Regions from separate parts of the Homo sapiens genome. Here all the other regions are linked to region 1. A link means that fine-mapping ties the variant in region 1 to the plasma level of a protein whose gene starts in the linked region. Region 1 holds a variant in brackets. A gene starts in each other region. All regions are shown on their reverse strands.

The links. PIP is the chance, under the fine-mapping model, that this variant and not a neighbour inherited with it causes the effect. The UK Biobank Pharma Proteomics Project read protein levels with antibody pairs (Olink). The fine-mapping took linkage between variants from a reference panel, not from the people measured, so its PIPs are less certain.
Region 2: TNFRSF12A starts here. The variant in region 1 is fine-mapped to the plasma level of the TNFRSF12A protein (UK Biobank, PIP 0.98).
Region 3: it holds the start of GCG, and the variant in region 1 is fine-mapped to the plasma level of the GCG protein (UK Biobank, PIP 0.95).
Region 4: it holds the start of VPS37A, and the variant in region 1 is fine-mapped to the plasma level of the VPS37A protein (UK Biobank, PIP 0.98).

What each region holds. Positions count from the first base shown.
Region 1 is chr11:116,776,525-116,780,580 of GRCh38, reverse strand. It overlaps ZPR1 (ZPR1 zinc finger), which reads left to right. Exons shown (of 14, transcript NM_003904.5): 13 at 744-809; 14 at 1,522-4,056. The coding sequence ends at 1,656. Among named protein-coding and RNA genes, the nearest start is that of BUD13-DT, 5.1 kb to the right of the region's middle. The variant C/G (reference allele first, on the strand shown) is at 2,380.
Region 2 is chr16:3,017,711-3,023,524 of GRCh38, reverse strand. TNFRSF12A (TNF receptor superfamily member 12A) reads right to left here and starts at 3,157. Exons shown (of 4, transcript NM_016639.3): 1 at 3,034-3,157; 2 at 2,206-2,310; 3 at 1,836-1,970; 4 at 1,142-1,754. The coding sequence starts at 3,127. The coding sequence ends at 1,699. It overlaps HCFC1R1 (host cell factor C1 regulator 1), which reads left to right. Exons shown (of 4, transcript NM_017885.4): 2 at 1-51; 3 at 164-292; 4 at 527-900. The coding sequence ends at 662. It overlaps CLDN6 (claudin 6), which reads left to right and starts at 5,342. Exons shown (of 2, transcript NM_021195.5): 1 at 5,342-5,376. RefSeq lists enhancers at 1-155, 1,446-2,089, 1,629-2,828, 2,735-3,379, 4,148-4,743 and 2 more and silencers at 2,069-2,238, 3,089-3,308.
Region 3 is chr2:162,149,644-162,155,457 of GRCh38, reverse strand. It overlaps GCG (glucagon), which reads left to right and starts at 3,211. Exons shown (of 6, transcript NM_002054.5): 1 at 3,211-3,300. The region is part of intron 1 of LOC101929532 (a long non-coding RNA gene); the gene reads right to left. RefSeq lists a promoter at 1,602-3,323.
Region 4 is chr8:17,243,807-17,248,474 of GRCh38, reverse strand. It overlaps VPS37A (VPS37A subunit of ESCRT-I), which reads right to left and starts at 1,517. Exons shown (of 12, transcript NM_152415.3): 1 at 1,106-1,517. The coding sequence starts at 1,230. CNOT7 (CCR4-NOT transcription complex subunit 7) reads left to right here and starts at 1,618. Exons shown (of 7, transcript NM_013354.7): 1 at 1,618-1,800; 2 at 3,228-3,439. The coding sequence starts at 3,323. RefSeq lists an enhancer at 1,021-1,869.

The sequences.
Region 1 (4,056 bases):
GTGAAATTAGGTAGCTCTGAAAGTAGAGGGGAAAGGATCTAAAATAAGGACTGTTAGAAAAGCCAACATCAGCAAGCTGTGGACCAGGGGGTGCTGGCCCAGTTGAAGGTAGAGGGAAAGGACTCAAGAACAAGGAGGTTAAATGACTGTGGCTGCTCCATTTCCTGGCCTGAGGGTAAAGGCTTGGCTGGCAGTGTTCTGAGAGCTGTGGGAAGGGGGCTGGGGTGTGTATGTATTCTGTTTCCCATAAGCTTACATTCATTTAACCTACTTGTTCTTGATTCCTTTCCCTCTACCTTCAACTGGGCCAGCACCCCCTAGTCCACAGCTTGCTGATGTTGGCTTTTCTAACAGTCCTTATTTTAGAACCTTTCCCCTCTACTTTCAGAGCTACCTAATTTCACCAATTCTTAAAACTTTTGGGGATTCTGTAATATAAATTGGGTTGGTTCTTGTCTGGCAGGCATAGCCTCTTTTTTTAAAAATTTTTCTTTACTTTCATTTATTTCATTTCTTTTTTTATTTATATATATATTTATTATACTTAAGTTCTAGGGTACATGTGCACAACGTGCAGGTTTGTTACATATGTATACATGTGCCATGTTGGTGTGCTGTACCCATTAACTAGTCATTTACATTAGGTATATCTCCTAATGCTATCCCTCCCCCCTCCCCCGACATAGCCTCTTTTTACCAGGGGTTATGTAAAATTTACTTGCTGTGTTCTCTCTCTCCTTTAGATCATCGAAGGTAACATGAAGGCCCACTTTATTATGGATGATCCAGCAGGAAACAGTTACTTGCAGGTATAGTAGACCTTCCCTGATGTTTCATAGAGATACATTTTCTGATCTTCCTTGAATATGTATCATTTCCCTAGAAACTGAAAGACTTGATTCTAAATGGACTGCTTTTTACCAAGGAGGCAGAAGTTAGAAGATACATAAGGGAGAAAAGAGGGGGGTGTGGGAGGGGATTTTTTTTTTAAGTGTATGTAAAGAAGGAAAAAAAAAGGATACTCTGAGGCCCCTTTTTTTTCTGTAGTCAAGCTCTTGTCCCAGTTCTGGAGTTTTCATTTTGCAAATCTGATTATGGATTGAGGAGAAATGGTACCTTGTCCGGAGGCCAAGATAGGAAACTGATAGGCTTTAAGTTGACTGAGGAGAGAGTCTGGTGATTGATGTACCTTTACCATTTATTGGATACTTACCATGGGTCAGGCAAAACTCTTCTAAGTTCTTTCCAAGATTAAGACCATTTGTCATACTTTTCATAAGAAGGTGCAGATATAACAAAATAGGTGGATTGTTCCCTGATTCTGGGGCTGGGGTCTTCTACCCCTGGCCCATGTGGGCTCTGTTGCTACCCACTAGTTCAGTCTAGCCATGGGAAATTGGAGGCCAATAAAAAGAAAAAAACCCAAAACTCATTCTGTTCTTGGGAAGGTGGGAATTGGAAGCTGCCTGCAGAGAGGGGGAGTGGCACAGCGGCACTGATTGTCTCTCCTTGACCTTGCAGAATGTGTATGCGCCTGAAGATGATCCTGAGATGAAGGTGGAGCGTTACAAGCGCACCTTTGACCAAAATGAGGAGCTAGGGCTCAATGACATGAAGACAGAGGGCTATGAGGCAGGCCTGGCTCCGCAACGGTAGCAGTGGGTGGCTCAAGGGCCAGCCTCCAGCGCTGCTCTTTCTGTAGGTTATTTATTAGTATTGGATGAAGGCGAAGGCTGGGAGTGTCTTTCCCACCAGCCCTTGCCCATGGTGGGGAGGACATCTGGTCTGAGTCAGAGATCTGTGCACACTTTCTAAACAGCTTGTGATGCAAGTGTGAGCCTATTGTGTTACTTGACCTTATTTTGGAAGTTTTGAATTGGCCTAGGAGGAAACCCAGAAATGAACCAGGGGTATGTCATCACTTTTTTCATATCAAGTCCTCACCCTCCTTCCACATAATGCTCTATCCTCTAAGGTTGGAACTCTGAAGTTGGAGAAGGTGGAATAAAGTTACACCTGGAGTTTGTTGTTGGTTTTGAGTATATAAAATACTGACTTTGAACAGGAAAGGAGTCTCCTGAGGGGAGACCGAGTCCAGCACAAGTGAAGGAGTTACCATTGAAATGATGACTTTCAAACAGCACTGGCCTCTGTATTGACCCTATCCTTGTTTGATATCATGCTGTTAGAATTCAGCCTCCTAAAGAAAATTTTCCCGTGTATCTACTGTAATTTGGGGATTGCAGCTGGCATTTAATTCATTCCTTCAGCAGATGCTTGCTTATCTACTTTATGCCAAGCACACCACAGAACAGAGGACAAAATAAATCTCTTTCATGGAACTTGAAGTCTAGTGGGGAAAAATGACAATAAACAGAT[C/G]AGGAAAACAGTACATCAGATGGTGATTAGTGTCATGGAGGAATGTAAAGCAGGGAATGGGGCTGGGTTGTGCAAGGAAATGGGGAGTAGGGAAGATCTTCTGAACAAGAAGGTGATAATTTGACATTTGGGCAAAGCTGAGGAGGAGGTCAGGGAGTGAGCTGTGTGGGTATCTGGGGGAAGAGATTTCCTGGCAGAGGGAACTGCAAATGCTAGAGCTGTGAGGTTAGAGCCAGTGGGGGTACCTGATCAGTTAGCCCTACTCTCAGTTAGAAATGTTGAAACACATTCATCCAGAGAGAAAGGAGGCTCTCTGCAGTTCTTCTGAAAGTTAAGGACCAGTGAACACTCTGCTGCTTGGGCCCTGGACTTCCCAGCCAGTGTTCTTTGCACTGTAGTCTCCTGCCTCTCATAAACAAAAGGTGACTCCTGTGGTGCAGACTGCAGGGTATTTGTTCAATAAAGACCAGTTCATTGATTAAGATGTTATCACAAACCTTATTGCTTTGTGTTGCAAACTTTTTTTTTTTTTTTTTTTGGTAGAGACAGAGTCTCGCGCTGTTGCCCAGGCTGGAGTGCAGTGGTGTGATCTTGGCTTATTGCAACCTTTGCCTCCCGGGTTTAAGCAATTCTGCCTCAGCCTCCCGAGTAGCGGGGACTACAGGCGCACGCCGCCACACCCAGCTAATTTCTTTTGTATTTTAGTAGAGACGGGGTTTCACCGTGTTGCCCAGGCTGGTCTCGAACTCCTGAGCTCAGGCAATCCGCCAGCCTTGGCCTCCCAAAGTGCTAGGATTACAGGCGTGAGCTACCGCGTCCGGCTGTGTTGCAAACTTAACTCTGAAGAATGAGTTAGAGATGATTTAGCAATCAGACATCTACTCTCGTTGCTCTGTTAAACTACTCTCAAAGGTCACAAGTGATTTTCCACTTGGAAAGTGTTATCTATTTCTGTCACATTTGATAGTGGACCATCTCTTCTTAACCCTTCTTTTGGCTCTCGAGATACTGTACCCTTGGTTTTCCCTTCACTTTGAATATTTCTTATTTGGACACTTTGCCTCCTCCCCTCTTACTAAATTTGTTTCTGAGAGTTCTGCTTTCAGACATCTCTCCATATCAGATTCTTTGGCATCTTACTATCATGTGGGACTAACTTCCATACCTGTATCTCTAATTTCTGTAAGTGAGGGCGAGAGTAAGGTGTTTGGAGACTCAGGTTAGCAAATGACTCATTCAAACTATAAAGCTTCAGTACTTTGGGCAAACTTCTCACAGGCAACTATTCTACCCTAAGAGATTATCTCTAGGTATGTTTCCAGCTGACTTGGGAATCTAAGTTTACCAGACAACCCTCTGATCTATCATTTGGTCTCTTAAGTAGACTTCCCCATAGTGTAGGTGTGCTCTGTTAAGATAAACTGCAGTATCAGGTTCATTTTCCATTGTGAAGGAAAAAAAATGGCACTCTGGCTTATTACTGAATCTCTTGTGAGTTTGGTTGGTGTGAGGCAATCTCCCAGAATCCACCCAGTTCCTAGGAAATGATGACCTGAGTTTCTGAACTTGAAGACTGAGGACCAGGTGCCAGACTGGGATAACCCAGCTAAGGTACTTCCTGCCCTTTGATGACAAGGCATTCTTCAGTTTCATACCCTTCTCTTGAATTATCTTTCA
Region 2 (5,814 bases), not on the chromosome of region 1:
TCTCCGAGGAGCTGTGCCCATGAGCACCAAGCGGCGCCTGGAGGAGGAGCAGTGAGTTTGGGGGCAGGGAGGGACTCCCAACAAGATCTCTGTCACCTCTGGTCCCCAACAGGCTGCCTCCTGTGTCAGTATCCCAGCCTGCCTCTCTGCCATCTCTCCCCAGGGAGCCTCTGCGCAAGCAGTTTCTGTCTGAGGAGAACATGGCCACCCACTTCTCTCAACTCAGCCTGCACAATGACCACCCCTACTGCAGCCCCCCCATGACCTTCTCCCCAGCCCTGCCCCCACTCAGGTAGGTTCCTCCACTGGCCAGGCCTTCTGCAGAATCACAGGCGGTCCTCACAGCTGACCTCAGGCCCTGCCTCATCGTGCCATTTTTAGCTCTAGCTGACCTCTGGGTTGTTTCCCATCTTGGCTCTTTGGAAAGTGCTGGGAACCCAGGAGCCCCTGGGGACCTGGACCTGGTGGGAGGTGCTCAGCTAGGCCAGCCTCAGCTCCATGCCCTGACAGTCATTTCCTCTTCTAGGAGCCCTTGCTCTGAGCTGCTTCTCTGGCGCTATCCTGGCAGCCTCATCCCTGAGGCCCTCCGTCTGCTGAGGCTGGGGGACACCCCCAGTCCCCCCTACCCTGCAACCCCAGCTGGGGACATAATGGAGCTCTGAGTGCTGGTGGACAGTGCCCCTCCCACCTTCCTTCTTCCCCACAACAGAAGAGACCAGCGACTCCCGCAAAGGGACAAGGTTCCTCCCTCTCCTGCAGAGTAGGCATCTGGGCACCAAGACCTTCCCTCAACAGAGGACACTGAGCCCAACGGAGTTCTGGGATGGGAGGGGTGGGAGCATGGGAAGGGAGGCATCCCACCCCCAAGAAGAACTGAATAAAGATTGCTGAGCAAAGGAAGGCTTCAGTCTGGAACCTGGGGCTTTTGGGGATGGTGGAGAGGGCAGAGGCGCGGGATGCTGGGGTTTCTCCTCAAGATCTTCCCTGGAAAACTGTTAGGGCCAGCCAGGTCCTTGCCGGCTGAGTTCCAGGCATTGAGAATGTGTGAGTCAGAGCCTCACCCCCGCCCCCGCGGCTGGCTGACTCACTCCCTCCCTCCAGCTCAGGGGAGTCAGTCGGGGATCACTGCCTCTCCAAACCATTTAAAGTTAAAGATTCTTTTATTAATAAATTCTCCCTCCCCTCCAAACTCTCCCCAAAATAAATATCTCCTCCCCGCTTTGGGGAGTTGGGGGGGTCTGTATCTTAGGGCCAGCCCTCCTAGTGGGCCAGCCCCCTAGTGTTAAAAATAGGTCCCTAACCCCCCAGGGTGACCCCCGTGGTGGAATTTCAGGACATCTGAGTGAGTGGGGCCTAGTGTCAAGTCTGCCCCCCAAGTCAGCCTGGCCCCCAGGGCCTCTAGGAAGGAGGGCACCCCCCTCCCCTGTGCAAATGCTGCAGTTCCTTAGTCAGTGTCAGCTGTTTTGTGTGAGCCAGCGTGAGGCTCCCTTTCTGTTCTGGAGCCAGAGGCAGGGCAACCAGACACCTTGGAAGGTTCCCCTGAACCCTGGGCCCAGGCCTCAGAGGTGATTCACCGCCCCCCACCCCCCTTGTGGTTGGAGGAGCTTGGCTCCCGCCGCGTCTGGGAGGCAGAGACTGGCTCTAGAATGGATGAATGAATGATGAGTGGGCGAGCCCCGGCTGGCAGGGGGCACATTGTCACTGGATCAGCGCCACAGCTGGGCAGCCCTCTCCGCCGGTCTCCTCTATGGGGGCTGCAAGATAAGAGGTGGGGTCGTCAGCAGCAGAGAAAAGGTCGAGTGCTGACAGGGCTGGGCAGGCCAGGGCACACTTACTGGTGAACTTCTCTCTCCTGCGGCATCGTCTCCAGACCAAAAAGCCAGAAAGCAGCCCCAGCACGAAGGTCAGGCTCAGAGCGCCCCCAAGGATGGGCCAAAGCAGCCGGAAGGGGGCAGGAGGTGCTGCAGCGCCTGGGGGCGGGACTCGGAGTCAGACCTCGCCCCTCTCCAGGCCAGCCCCGCCCCCTAAGACTGAGCCTTCTGCCTTCTCCCAAACGTGGCCTCCTCCCTGACCGGAGCCCCCTCCCAGCTCCCACCTCCTCCCGAATGATTTCCCAGATGCAAAGCTCTCGGCCCCGCTCTGCGCACCAGCCACCCTCCCTCCCAGTCTGGGGTCCGCTGGCCACTGGCCCTGCCCCCCACTCACAGCCCAGGCAGAAGTCGCTGTGCGGTCGCGCCCTGCAAGACGCGCAGTCCATGCACTTGTCCAGGTCCGCGCTCCAGGAGCTGCCGCGGGAGCAGGGGGCGGTGCCTGGGGAGGGGGCCTCGGGTCAGAGGCTGGGGGCGGGACTCGGCTATTCTGGGGTCTGAGGTCAGGGTCGGCCGGCTCGAATAACGTGAGTCACCGGCGCCCTCCCCGCGCATTCCTCACAGGTGACCGCACGGCCCGACCGGGACACGGCAGCTCCGGGAGGGAGGGCGTAGCGCGGGACGCTGGGGGTGGGGGGGGTCAGGTCCCCACAACCCCCCTGCCGCCGGCGGGTGACTCACTCCTGGGCACCGGGCCCGACCCCAGTCCCTCCCCCCGCATAGCTGGGCACTGAAGTCACCGGATGGAAGGGGGCACCCCACATGGTATAGAGGGCACAGACCCTAGTGCCTCTCGACGGCCTCCCCAACTCGTCGATCACTGGGGCTAGTTAGACCCTGTACGGACCAGGCTGGGGGCGTGCCCCTTCCTAGACTAAACATCCCGCCCTCACTCACTTTCTCTCTCCATTCGAAGTACTTCGGACTTGTGGAACTGAAGACCCCCCCCAACCCCAATTGGACGGTGGGAGAAACTGAGGCCCGGATTGTGAATGAAGCTTGGAGAGTGATGGAACTTCCCACAGCCGGGAGCGAGCTGTTTGAAGGCCACCTGACCCCAGATCCCCACATCCGCCTGTTCCCCCAGTTCGGCGCTGTTCTCCAGACACCCAGTCCGGCTCCCGAGCCCCGGCCCGGGGTTCCCCGACCCCGGAGTCCCGCGTACCTGGCGCTTGCTCCCCGGCCACGGAGCGCAGCAACGCCAGCCAGAGCCCCAGCACGAGGAGCCGCAGCAACCGGCGCAGCGAGCCCCGAGCCATAGTGCACGTCCTGCGCCCGCCGCTGTCTGCGCCCGCCGCCGGCCGGCAGGGACCCACGGCCGCCGCCCCGCCCCCGCCCCCGCCTTCCGGGGCGGAGCTCTCGCCTCCGCCCGCCTTGAGGTCCGCTTCGGGACGCCCCGCCCCGCGGCGCCCGCTCAGTTCAGTCATTCATTCAACAAAGTCCTGGCGCGGGAGCTGCCAGGACCCCGCAGGGACGCAGACCCCCTTCCTTGCCCAGCCGGTGATCTAGTCCAGCGTGCGTGGTGTGGGGAAATCAAAAATTAGACACGAGTGCTCGCTTCGGCAGCACATATAGAAATCAGACACGAACGGCCGGACGCGGTGGCTCACGCCTTTAATCCCATCAGTTTGGGAGTCTGAGGCAGGCGGATTACGAGGTCAGGAGTTCGAGAGCAGCCTGACCAACGTGGTGAAACGCCGTCTCTACTCGAAATACAAAAATTAGCCGGGCGTGGTGGCGCGCGCCTGCAATCCGAGCTACTCAGGAGGCTGAGGCAGGAGAATCTCTTGAACCCGGGAGGCAGAAGTTGCAGTGAGCCGAGATCGCGCCACTACACTCCAGCCTGGGCGACAGAGTGAGAGTCCGTCTCAAATAAATAAATAAATAAATAAATAAATAAATAAACAAACAAACAAACAATAAAAAGAAATCAGACACACGACCAATCCATGCAGAGATCACTGCAGCTTCCTTCCCCCCACCTCCCCTTGAGATTGCGTCTCACTCTTGCTCAGCCTGGAGTGCAGTGGTACGATCACGGCTCTCTGGGCTCAGGTGAGCCTCCCACCTCAGCCTCCCAAGTAGCTGGGACCACAGGCCCTGCCCCACCACGTCCGGCTAATTTTTGTATTTTTTGTAGAGACCAGGGTCTTACTATGTTGCCCAGGTTAGCCTGGCCACTACAGCTTTGTTAAGGGCCCGGGGGGTATAACAATTAAACCTGAGGTCAGGAGCTCGAGACCAGCCTGGCCAACTTGGTGAACCCCCGTCTTTACTAAAAATAAAAAAAAGAAAGAAGTTAGCCGGGCGTGGTAGTGGGCGCCTGTAATCTCAGCTACTCGGGAGACTGAGGCAGGAGAATTTCTGGAACCTGGGAGACGGAGGTTGCAGTCAGTCGAGATAGCGCCATTGCACTCCAGACTGGGCGACAGAGAGGGCCTCCATCTCAAAAAACAAAACAGGCCGGGCGCGGTGGCTCACGCCTGTAATCCCAGCACATTGGGAGGCCGAGGCGGGCAGATCACGAGGTCAGGAAATCGAGGCCATCCTGGCTAACACGGTGAAACCCCGTCTCTACTAAAAATACAAAAAAATTAGTCGGGGGTGGTGGCGGGCACCTGTAGTAGTCCCAGCTACTCTGGAGGCTGAGGCAGGTGAATGGCGTGAACCCGGAAGGCAGAGCTTGCAGTGAGCCAAGATCGCGCCACCACACTCCAGCCTTGGCGAGAGAGCGAGACTCCATCTCAAAAACAAACAACAACAACAACAAAAAACCAGCAACATAAAAATAATATTATCTGGCCGGGCGCGGTGGCTTAAGCCGGTAATCCCAGCGCAGTGCGAGGCCAAGGCGGGCGGATCGCTTGAGTCCGGGAGTTCGAGACGCCTGGGCAATATAACAAGACCCTGTCTATACAAAACAAAACATAAATTAGCTGGGCACGGTGGCGTGTGCTGCCTGTAGTCCCAGCTACTCAGGAGGCTGAGGCGGGAGGATCGCTTGAGCCCAGAAGGTCGAGACTGCAGTGAGCCGTGATCGCACCACTGCACTCCAGCCTGGGTGACACAGTGAAAATATTTCTCTAAAATAATACCAATAGTATGCCCTTTAATTTGTACCTTAGGACGTAGTTACATAATAAAATGCAGACTTGTTATCTCCATTTTGCAGAGTAGGAAACGAAGGCTCGGGAAGGTTAGGTGAGTTCCCCATGTCACCGCGCTGCTTAAGTGGTGAAGCGGAGTCTCAAGCTCTGTTCTACCCTAAGCCTGGCGCCCTCACCCTGGGTGAGTCTGGACGTCTGCCAGCCCGAGGCGGGCCCAGCGACCCCAGCCTCCAGCGCCCCCCTCTGACAAGCCTGGGATTCGCACGCCCGCTGCCGTCAGGGACAGGGTCTCTGCCCCTCCTCCGGGGCGGTGGTCCAGTGACGTCACCGCTTCTTTAAGACCCCCGCCTCCGCCCCTGTCCCGACACTCGGCCTAGGAATTTCCCTTATCTCCTTCGCAGGTGAGTCCGGGGCTAGTGTGCGTGTTGGAGAGACGCCTCTTGGGGCCGGGTGCAGGGTGGTGGCGGCGTGGGTAGGGGTGCGTGCGAACTCGGGCTGCGGCCACCTGGATGGGCGAGTCCCTGAGGGGGTCGGCCGGTCCGCGCCCAAGCCTCCGAGGTGATAGGGTCCTTCGGGGCTCCCAAGGGTTAAACGCCCCTCCCCCCTCCCCAGGGACAAAGACTCCGAAACCCCTGGCGCCCCTCCCCCACCTGCCTTGCCTCTCGGGGCGGGGCGCCCCTCCCCCCTCCCCCTCACCTGGGGGAGCGGACCTTGCGGCCACTGCAGCTATAGAACCCCTCCAGGGCGCGCGGCTCCCAGGCTGGGGTGGTCGGGTGGGCCGGGGCGCCCTCGGACAGAGTCTTTTTCATGCAGTGCATGAAAAAGAAAGGGGCAGGGGC
Region 3 (5,814 bases), not on the chromosome of region 1:
TCACTCCTTTTTAAATTACATTTTTTGGTTTGTTTTGAATGGGTAATTCTATCAAATGGTCAAACAATCCAAACCACATAGCAGGTATATAAAAGAAGTATTCTTTGCATCCTGTCCCTGTCCACATGCACCCCACTTATCCACACTGCCTCCTACAGGTAAGCACTTTCATCAGCTTCTTGTCTATTTTAATTTTTTGACGCAATTATGAAAAATAAACACGTATTTCTGCCCCTCTCCCTTCTAAAACAAAAGGTAGCCTACTACATACCCATTCTGCACTTTCTTGTTTTCAACTAACAACATAACTTGGAGTCTTTCCCTACTGGTAAATAGACAGCGTCTTCATTTTTTTTTTTTTTCTAAACAGTGCTCTATTGCTGGCCCCTTGGATTAGTTCCCACCTGTTACTCTTCTACTCAACCTTGTACCTACATCATTACATATCTACATAGCAATATATGTGGGATAAATGTTCAGAATAGTGCTTTAGCCTTACTGGACCAAGAACTATAGGTATTAGTCACTTCGATAAGTATTACCAAACCACCTTTCAAAGGAGTTAATATTTTGTACTCCCATCAGCAACGCCTGAGAGTTCTCCCTACCCATAGACTTCCCATCGCAGCGCACTGTGAACCTGGATCTTTGCCATTCTCAACTATTCCTAAGTATTCCGAGCAGCTACAGAAAATAAACACACAATAACCCCACAATGCATGGTTTTGTGTAAATTTTTAAGAATTTTGAGGTGGTAAAAGCATTAAGGCAAGCATGAGGTCCTGCATGCAGCTTCATGCAGCTGCACAGGTTGTAAATCTGTGGAAATTGTCCTTAGGACTAAACATCATAAAGAAATCATATATGTCACTAGTCATAGACATACAGGGCTACCACTTTCCTTGCCTCACATCTAAATCACTGAATAACTGTATTGATGGGAATAGGCCAAGTAGAGGCTCATGCCAGAACAGTGATAGGAAGAAGATCTGCAAGTCCAAATTGCACTTGAGTTCTGTCTTAATTTCTGACAATTCGGTGTCCATGAAGAAGCCTGACTTGCCCCTCCTAGAGAGGAGAGCAGCACACAATGCAGTGGGGTTCTTATTGCTTATACATCCTGAGAATGCTTACCCTTATGGTACTGGGAGCCCCAAGAATCAGTGTCAGTGGGCTGGAGATAAAGTCACAGGAAATTTTCTGAAACAACTTGGGATAGTCACTTCTAGAATAATGGAAGCAAGTAGAGTGGAGGGAAAGAAAAATGTTTGGTAGTTAAATATTGGGAGAGGATAATTACTGAAAGGCCAGTGCTATGTTGAAGATTTTATATATATGATCTGCAGATCTTCCTTCTTAGGGCTGCTCCACAAACAAGTAGAGTCTGAAAAGGAAAGAGAGAGACAGAGACAGAGAGACAGAAAGAAACATCTGCTCAAATAGACAAATAGACAATGGGAAAAGTAGAACTGAATCTGCCAAAACGATTAAAAATATAGCGAATAGTTGTGTGAAGATTGTAGCCAGAGAGAAAGACAATGTAATCATACATTAAATCAATCCACTCTTTCAAGCTATTACCGTATTTATAAGTATTACTCTCTAGACCGACCTAAGGCTTGACACCTTTCTCTGCTCTTTCACCCCCTCTGCTGGTAGAGTGCCAAGAAGCAGGTCTCAGATCAAGACACCAGCAGTACCAATGAGGAGATAAAGTGAGGCAGATATTTTATGCAGCTGTGCTTCTCAAATTTTAATATGAACACAGATTTCCTTAGGATTTTGTTAAAATACAGATTCTGATAGGCACGAGATTCTGCATTTCTAGCAAGCTCCCAGATGATGCTGGTCCTTAGACCACACTTTGCAAAGCAAGGCTTTCTAGCACCCAATAATCACCAGCACAAAAACCCCTCAATGATGTCTTCCAGTCTGACTTGAAAGTGATCTCTGTGGCCTTCAAGTAGCTCTACATTCAAACGTTGGTCTCATGCACAAATTGAACAGTTAAGTTCATTTGGAATATTTCTCCAGTTGCCTCAATGATTTACCTCCATACAAGTCATCAGTGACATCATGCGGTTGGTTATATTAGAATATTGGAATCTAGTTAGGAAATGTTGTGATGAGTTTGCAATATGGAATAAAATTTTTATTTTAGAAAAGACATTTACCAACCCCTCTCATTTTACAAATAAGGAGGCAGAGACACAAAGAGAATGCGTGACTTGACCAAGGTCACACAGCTGGTCAATAACAGCAAAACTAAAATCAAATTATGCCAACACTACTTCTTATGCTGTCTTTCCAGATTATTTACCATTTTTCTATTTCTCTACAGTGACCAGAATCATTTCTGCTAAATGTCACAGATCATTAAAGCCTGTGTGTCCAGTCACAAAACTCAGGAAACGTGAAAATATGCATCTCATCTCAACAGTTTTCCTCATATCTCATTCTTTTGTAACTTAGTACCCCACTCTCTTATCAGTAAAATTAGATTTTAAATATATATTAGAAGGAAAAAAATACCAGATAATTTCCTGTTAGCATCAGCTATCTTGGATGTTTAATCTTCATTTTGCTCCATCCTTTCTGCCTGAATTCCATTTATTAAAACAGAACACATAGGGGTTTAATCAATATCCTTAAATTTTCCACAAACATAACATAAATAAACTCCACGTTGTGAGGAAGAGAGGATTTTTAATACATATGTGTTGAATGAATGATCATTATTTAGATAAATGAATGACTGAAGTGATTGTTATATTCAGGTAAATTCATCATGGCTAGGTAGCAAACCAAAGACTTGTAAGAACCTCAAATGAGGACATGCACAAAACAGGGATGGCCATGGGCTACGTAATTTCAAGGTCTTTTGTCTTCAACGTCAAAATTCACTTTAGAGAACTTAAGTGATTTTCATGCGTGATTGAAAGTAGAAGGTGGATTTCCAAGCTGCTCTCTCCATTCCCAACCAAAAAAAAAAAAAAAAGATACAAGAGTGCATAAAAAGTTTCCAGGTCTCTAAGGTCTCTCACCCAATATAAGCATAGAATGCAGATGAGCAAAGTGAGTGGGAGAGGGAAGTCATTTGTAACAAAAACTCATTATTTACAGATGAGAAATTTATATTGTCAGCGTAATATCTGTGAGGCTAAACAGAGCTGGAGAGTATATAAAAGCAGTGCGCCTTGGTGCAGAAGTACAGAGCTTAGGACACAGAGCACATCAAAAGTTCCCAAAGAGGGCTTGCTCTCTCTTCACCTGCTCTGTTCTACAGCACACTACCAGAAGGTAAGATGATTATAAAATTGTAAATCCTGTTTGGCGGACAGTGAAGTATTTTTAAGGGATCAAAATATTATAAATTAAAATGTTGTTCTTTCATCTTAGACTTTATTACTAATAGTACACAGAGAGGAACTGAGATGGAAAAGGTTATATCAAATGCATTTACGTGTACTTTAATATAGCGAAGCCGCAAAGCGAGTTGGAAAAATAATTATATGCAAAAATATAAAACAGAAAAAAAACAAAGATTCAAATCAATGCACTTGTTATAATACTTAACTGTTATGAGAGTTGTATTTTAAAATAATTGGTAACATTTTGAAGAATAAATATTTTTCTTGGACTTGATAGATCTGTATACTACTTTGAACAGAAGGCGTCTTTTAAAGTAAGCAGAAATGTGTCCATTAGGGAGCCTATAACAGAAATTGCTTTTTACCAATTAAAATCTCTGGTTTTCCAAAAGAGCAAATTAAATAACATCTTTCAAATATTCAAATTTCAGACATCTATCAAAAAATCAAAGTCCATTAAAGCAACTCTTTGTAAATAAAACATAGCGTACTTGGTGCAGAGAACAAGTGTCATCTATTTGGGGGGTTTTCTTTGGATGCATCTGAGTGAAGCCATACATTAATAACTATTTACTATGTATTGAGGATAAATAGTAATAAAATCTAAAATAGCTACCCTCTGCAATAAAATTTTAATTTGTCTTTTTAGATTAGGCTCCTAGAGACAAAAAACAAATTTACAAAGATCTTTGATGGAGTAAATGATTAAGTGGTGTATTTTTCCATACATACTGAAGACCTATTACATAAAATGAGCTAACCAGTTTGAAAAAGGATTTATATGGACTACAATGCCAACACATTTGGGGATAGAACATAATGTCTTCTTTTTTAGGTCTAAGGTTAATCTTTCTGTAAGACTTCCTACTTATTATTGTTACCATACTTTCCTTTAAATTTTAGTGGAAATTTGTAGTTCTTACAAAACTGCAGGCTCTCTTTAGACTACCTAAAGAGGGGGGAAATTAACTGGAAATTATTTTCTTATTGAATAAGATTTTAATACTAAAATAACATAAATCTCTACTTTCTCAGCAATTGTATTCAAACAATTAACTCTATTCTTTTTTTTTTCACAATTCGATAGACTTTCACAAACAAATAAGTGAGATTTTTAAAGCCAGTTCTTTCTTCAGAAGAAGTCATTTATTGTTGGTAATATTATTAGATACGGAACGCTCACTTCTTTATGTGGTTTATGGTTGTTCTTTCTTCCATCAGCTCCTGAAGTGGCAGGATACCTCCTGCTCTAAATCCTCCTCAATGGAACATAATAGGAGATATTGCAAAACGCTTAGGACTTTGGGTGGAATGAATTTTTTTTTCAGTCTTGTGAAAGACTAAAAGCTTTTACAAGAAACTTTTCAACAGTGGTATAATTTTTAAAAGAAGTGCTTACTTTAATATTTAAATATTCCTGCAAGCACGGATATAACAATTGAGAGTTATAATCAGTAGATACTACCTAAATATATGGCAAGGTTTCCAAAGTCTGCCAACCGGTTAAACTGAAGCATAGCAAAATGTCAAATTGGTAATTTGATGTTGATGAATGAAGAAAGGTGAATATATCATTCCTATTATGTTCCTTTGTCTAATCATCCATTCAATGTACAAAAAACTTAATATTTCAAAGAAAAAAGTTACTGCTGCAGGTATTACAGTGTCTATGTTTTAGTGCCAGAGATAGTAAATACAGCTAATATATTAAGGAAAAGATTGATAGTTTAAAAATGATAATATTTGTGAAATCCTTATTCCAAACCAAATGTCATTTGCTAAAAATATTCATTCAAATTATTTGTGGATAAGCATAGTCAAACTTGGATTGAAATGCCCGCTTCTCAAAGGAAACACCATTGGGTTTCAAAGTAGCCGAGATCCATGACAAAGACGGACTTGACGTTCCCATTCAGAAAATAGAAGCGCTTGCTCTGTGGGGACATTCTGTCCCACATTCATGTTGGTCCCAGTCCCCGTCGACACTGCATCATCACATCCTTAACATACTATGGCTTCGCAGGGCATCTGCTTGTGACACAGGGACAAGCAATCAGGTGTATCCTATAACCAAGTCTATGGTGTCACCAGCAGTGAATGACATGTCCTCATCTAAGTCCAATTAGAAAACAACCTGGGGACTTTTATGACTTTAGAAGCAAGCTCTAATTTTTTTTTACATAGTAATCTCTTAGTTTTTTAGTTGTGATTGTTCACGTTGCCAGAAGCATTAGTTCTTGTTGCAAATTGCTTGTCTTTAAAATGATTTTTTCCCTTTAATTTAGAACAGGTCAAAGCACCCTAAAATACCTCAAATCTGTTGGCCGCTTTATAATTACAAAGTCTAGACCAAGTTACACTATTTAAAATATAAATGAATAATACATCTGAACCGACAGCTGGTATGCCAAGTTGTAGCCTGAGGCTGCTTTAAGATGGTTGA
Region 4 (4,668 bases), not on the chromosome of region 1:
GTGAAACCCCGTCTCTACTAAAAATACAAAATATTAGCCGCGCATGGTGGCGCGCACCTGTAATCCCAGCTACTCGGAGGGGTGTGGGGAGCTGAGGGAGGATGATTGCTTGAATCCGGGAGACGGAGGTTGCAGTGAACCGAGATCGCGCCACTGCGCTCCAGCCTGGGCAACAGGAGAGCCGTACCCCCGGCAAAAAAAAAAAAAAAAAAAGGGGTTAGGGACTTAACAATGTTGTCATCTTTATTTAAAATAGTGTGAAACTGTTAAGTAAATATACTTGCAAAATGCATAAAATATAAAGAAGCAGTTCTAATTTTTGAAAACCATTAGAGACCATAGACATTTGCAATGTAAAAGGCTGCAGCAAACCAATTTACAGTAAAAGTTGAAATAATATGAATTGTAAAAATATTTCTAAACTGACCATGATAAAATGAAAAACTCACAGGAAGACAACAGAACAATCAAGATGAACATAAAGTAATTCTTGAGCGTGGGGACAAGACTATGAAAGAAGTGAGAAATGTACATGCACTGGTCGCTGTGAGATGGGGAGAGACTGCTCCAACAGGGTAAATCTTAGAGACTCAAGAAGACTGACTACGTGATAAGTGACTCTCAGACGAGAAGCATTCACTGATGAAAACTCTGGCTTCCCTTTCCTTTGATGTTGCAACAGTTCTATTTTCCATTCTTTGTGAAACCTGGAGATTACTCTTCACAATTGTATTTTAACAATTCTGCTGACGCGGCAATCAGGTGGGCAAAGGGAAAGATCAGTGGCGAAGCCTGGGCAGCAAGGGATACTGGAAATAGACTATGAGAGAGATTGAGAGATTACAGTCAGCAGCTATGTGTCAGGAGGGATGAGGAAATCCGAGTTAGAAGCGCTGAGCAGTGGTGCGGCAGGAGGCAGGGAGGGTCCGGAGGAAAACAGTAAAAGGGGGCAGGAGTGGCAGAGCAAGCGTGTGACCCACAACCAAGGGAGGTAAACCACATGAGGAGCTGGTGGGGAGCAGACTGAGGCGCTGTGAGGGTGGTTAGGACAAGCCCGCCCTCCCACCCTACTTTTTCCTCCGGTGGAGAGGCAGCGACCAGTCACCTGGAGTGTGAGTTCCGGAGGGACTCGATCAGGCGCTGCTTCTGCTGCTGGAGGCTGGTGAGGCCACCGGGGGACCCAGCCGCGGAGGAGGAGGCGCTCTTGGTCAGGGGAAAAAGCCAGCTCATCCTCCTCGGGTCCACGGGCCGGAGGCCCTGGAAGGCTCTGGCCTGCTTCTCCCAGTGGCTCGGCCCGGCGGTTCTCCAGCGACAGAGGAGCGGGGTGGGACGTCCGTGGCCCAAGCGCTGGGGACCGCGTCTTCTCTAAGCCTGTCCTGCCTGCGCTCCCCGAGTTCTGGGGGACATGCTACGAACGGCGGGCGGCTGGAGAGGGAAACTTGCGGCCCGGAACAGGAGGTCCCACCTTCACGGCCCAGACGCCCAAACCGGCCAGCCAGGGAGCCTGGCCGCCCAGCGCTCCACCACCCGCGCCGCCGTCACTTGCGTGCCCCGCCCCCGGGGGCGCTCTCCGCCCCCTCTGCGTGTCGCGTCATCATCTAGCGCCCCCGTCAGGACGTGCGAAAAGCGACGGCGCAGCACGGTGCGGCGCAGCTCCTGCTCGCCTTTCCCTTCGCTGGGCGAGAGGTGTCTATGGGGCACCCGCTGCCGCCGCCGCTACCGCCACCGCCACCGCCACCGCCGCCGAGTGCTGTCTCTATGGCGAGGAGGAGGAGGAGGAGCGCGAGCTCAGCGACACAAGTAGATCTTGCATCCGCTGCAGCCTTACGGGGGGAGGGGCGGGTTAGGGAAGTAGAAAGGGGGCGGGGACGATGAACCTGAGAGGGTGCGCGATGGCGCCAGCTGGAGTGCGGCTGGCGGAGGAAGGAGCCTGGCGGCGGGTTGGGGGCTGGGTAACTGGGGCTGGGGGTTTGTCAAGGGGTTGGCGCGTAGTGATGACGCAAAGGCTTTGTACCTGGGGCTTCGCAGTGGGACGGAAATTGGGAGTGGAGGGCGGTGGCCTAGATCCTCACCTCTTCGTATTGTTTCACGCGGCAGTGCTTGGGAGTCAGTGTAGCTCCAGTCAGTGTTATCAGCACCTTCGCACTGGCGCTTTGCCAGGGAAGAGAGTTATCTATGGCTTGAATACCTCGGTGCCGTCCTCTCGTTTCTCTGGGAAACTGCAGTACGGAGATGCTTTCTCCAGTAATGAGAAGGCCTTTGGTGTCTCTTCGGGGCTTCTGGGACTGCAGTAGAGAGAGAGGTGGAGGAAAACAATGTTAGACTACAGGGTCTTTCCAAGTCTTTGTGTTTTTGTGCTTATGTGTGTGTGTGTGCCTATCGGGGTGGGAGAGTTATAAAGGAGGGGTGTCCTGGATCTCCTTTAGTTTCTCTACTTGGAGAATTGGAAGTTACATTTGTGACTCTTCAGAGTTTAGAAGACAGTCATAAGACCCTCTTTTTACTCTTGTTTTTTTTTTTTCCAATTTGTATGAAAAATGCAGAAGGATTTGAAATTTCCCTGCCCAAGAATCAACAGGAACTCTGTTTATAGACCAGAAATGTGACATCTATCTTTGGTAACCATGCAATATGCTCTAAGTTTTAGACGTTCTATTGTGTTCTTTTTCCGTTCTGCAACTGCGAACATTCAGATAATTTTCATGGCCGTTACTTTTTTCTCAGAGCATTTACAAACATTTTTGACCCCTCTAGTCTAGTTAGAATAAACGCCGGTAAAGTAGATCTTGTTATCAAGTCGGATTTTGGTTGTTTTATTAATGAGGAATAAAAATAAACACCATCTTTGCCATGGTAACATCTGATCTTGTCACATGTAAATAAGTAATTTTTCATTTTTTGTCTGGAAATGGATGGCTTTATAAAGTTTTATGCAGAGTAGTTGAACTCAGATAAATAATTAGTGGAAAGTTATAAAATATGATTAGTATGTATGTGTAAAAAAGCTATTTTAAAATAACTGAAATTAGGACCAGGAAATCTGTACTGTAGTCCTTTTTTTCCTATAGACTAGCTGTGTGACCTTAAGTTACTTTCTAAACTTTGATTTTTTTTTTTTATGAGTCAAGAACTTTGAATAAATAACTTCTTAGGTTCCTGCTGGATCAATTATTCTGTGATTCAGATTTGATATATCTGGTCTTCATATTGTTTTTTTATTTTGACAGGTACATAAATAAAGGATAAAATATTTTATGAAACAAATCTTCAATCAAGTATAACATTTTGATGCTTGGCATCTAGACTCCCTTGTGCCCTCACTATGCCAGCGGCAACTGTAGATCATAGCCAAAGAATTTGTGAAGTTTGGGCTTGCAACTTGGATGAAGAGATGAAGAAAATTCGTCAAGTTATCCGAAAATATAATTACGTTGCTATGGTATGCCCACAAGCAGATCTTTAAAACGCTTCATATAAAGGAGGAAAAGGAAATTTTAAAGTCTTGAATTCAACCCTTTTGGTTGATATTTTTAGGGATTAATTTCACCATGAAAAGTAAAATTTGTCACTGCCCTCCAGCCAAAATCCATCAGGAATACACCTGTGATTTGACAGGTTGGGTTTATCCCTCATTGCAGTGAGGGAAAACGCACTGGAATTCATGGGAACCATGGGCCGTTTGAATAAGAGTTAGGAAGGATTTGGGCTCGTGTCAGGTGGTCTTAGGGGAAGGTAAGGGAAGCAGAGCTTTACTGTGGATTGGATGTGTTCGGGAAGCTGGGGTAATTCTGTGATTGGGTATCTTACTAAGTCTTAAATGAGAGACTAGAATGAGGTTAAAGCTGCAGAGAAGGAACAGTCATTCATTTAGCCAGGATGGAGATACTTGGTCATTTTGTGGTTTGACATTTTTATTTTTTTGTCCTTGTTCAGACATGATTACAGAGTGGCCTTATTTGAGGTTGAACTTTTGTGAAATTGTGTTCAACAGGAGAACATTAGGGCGTGGCTATGAGTGCCAGGTCTGCTCCTAGCAACACCAAAGCCTAGCTGGTAGTACCACATGAGCTCCCAGAAGCTAGGGTGCTCTTTCTCAAACAAAAAAATCAGATGTGCCAGTGAAACGTTGTTGGTCTGCAATTTGTTTTCATAATTAACACTGGAGTTCTGTGAATATACTGTGTTACTAAGCAACTCTGCTTTTGCACGTGCTGTTTGGTCTGCCTAGATTGTCTATCCAGTTAATGATTTTTCTTCTTTACCATTATACTGTCTATATCTGTTAGCTACCCTACTGTTTTCTACATCCACTGGATTATTATTAGCTCCATAAACCAAGTGTTTTAATCCTTTCTCTCCCAACACCTAGCATAACACATATAGTATTCAATAAAGTGGCTGTTGAATTGCACTGAATTTAGAGAAATATTGATTTCTTTACTATTTCATAGTGACTTGATAGGTAGTTTTTATTCTTAGCTAGCCCTAGTTTGAATTCTAATACTAAACCGATGTATCTTTGTCTCAGTATTTTTAATAAAAATAAACAAATGCATTACTTTGGGGAGGAGCAAGTTGATTGGTTAAAATATGACTGTTTCTTTGTAGATGACATACTATTTGATAAAGGTGTACTTACCCATGATTAGAACTAAAATTGTTTTCTTA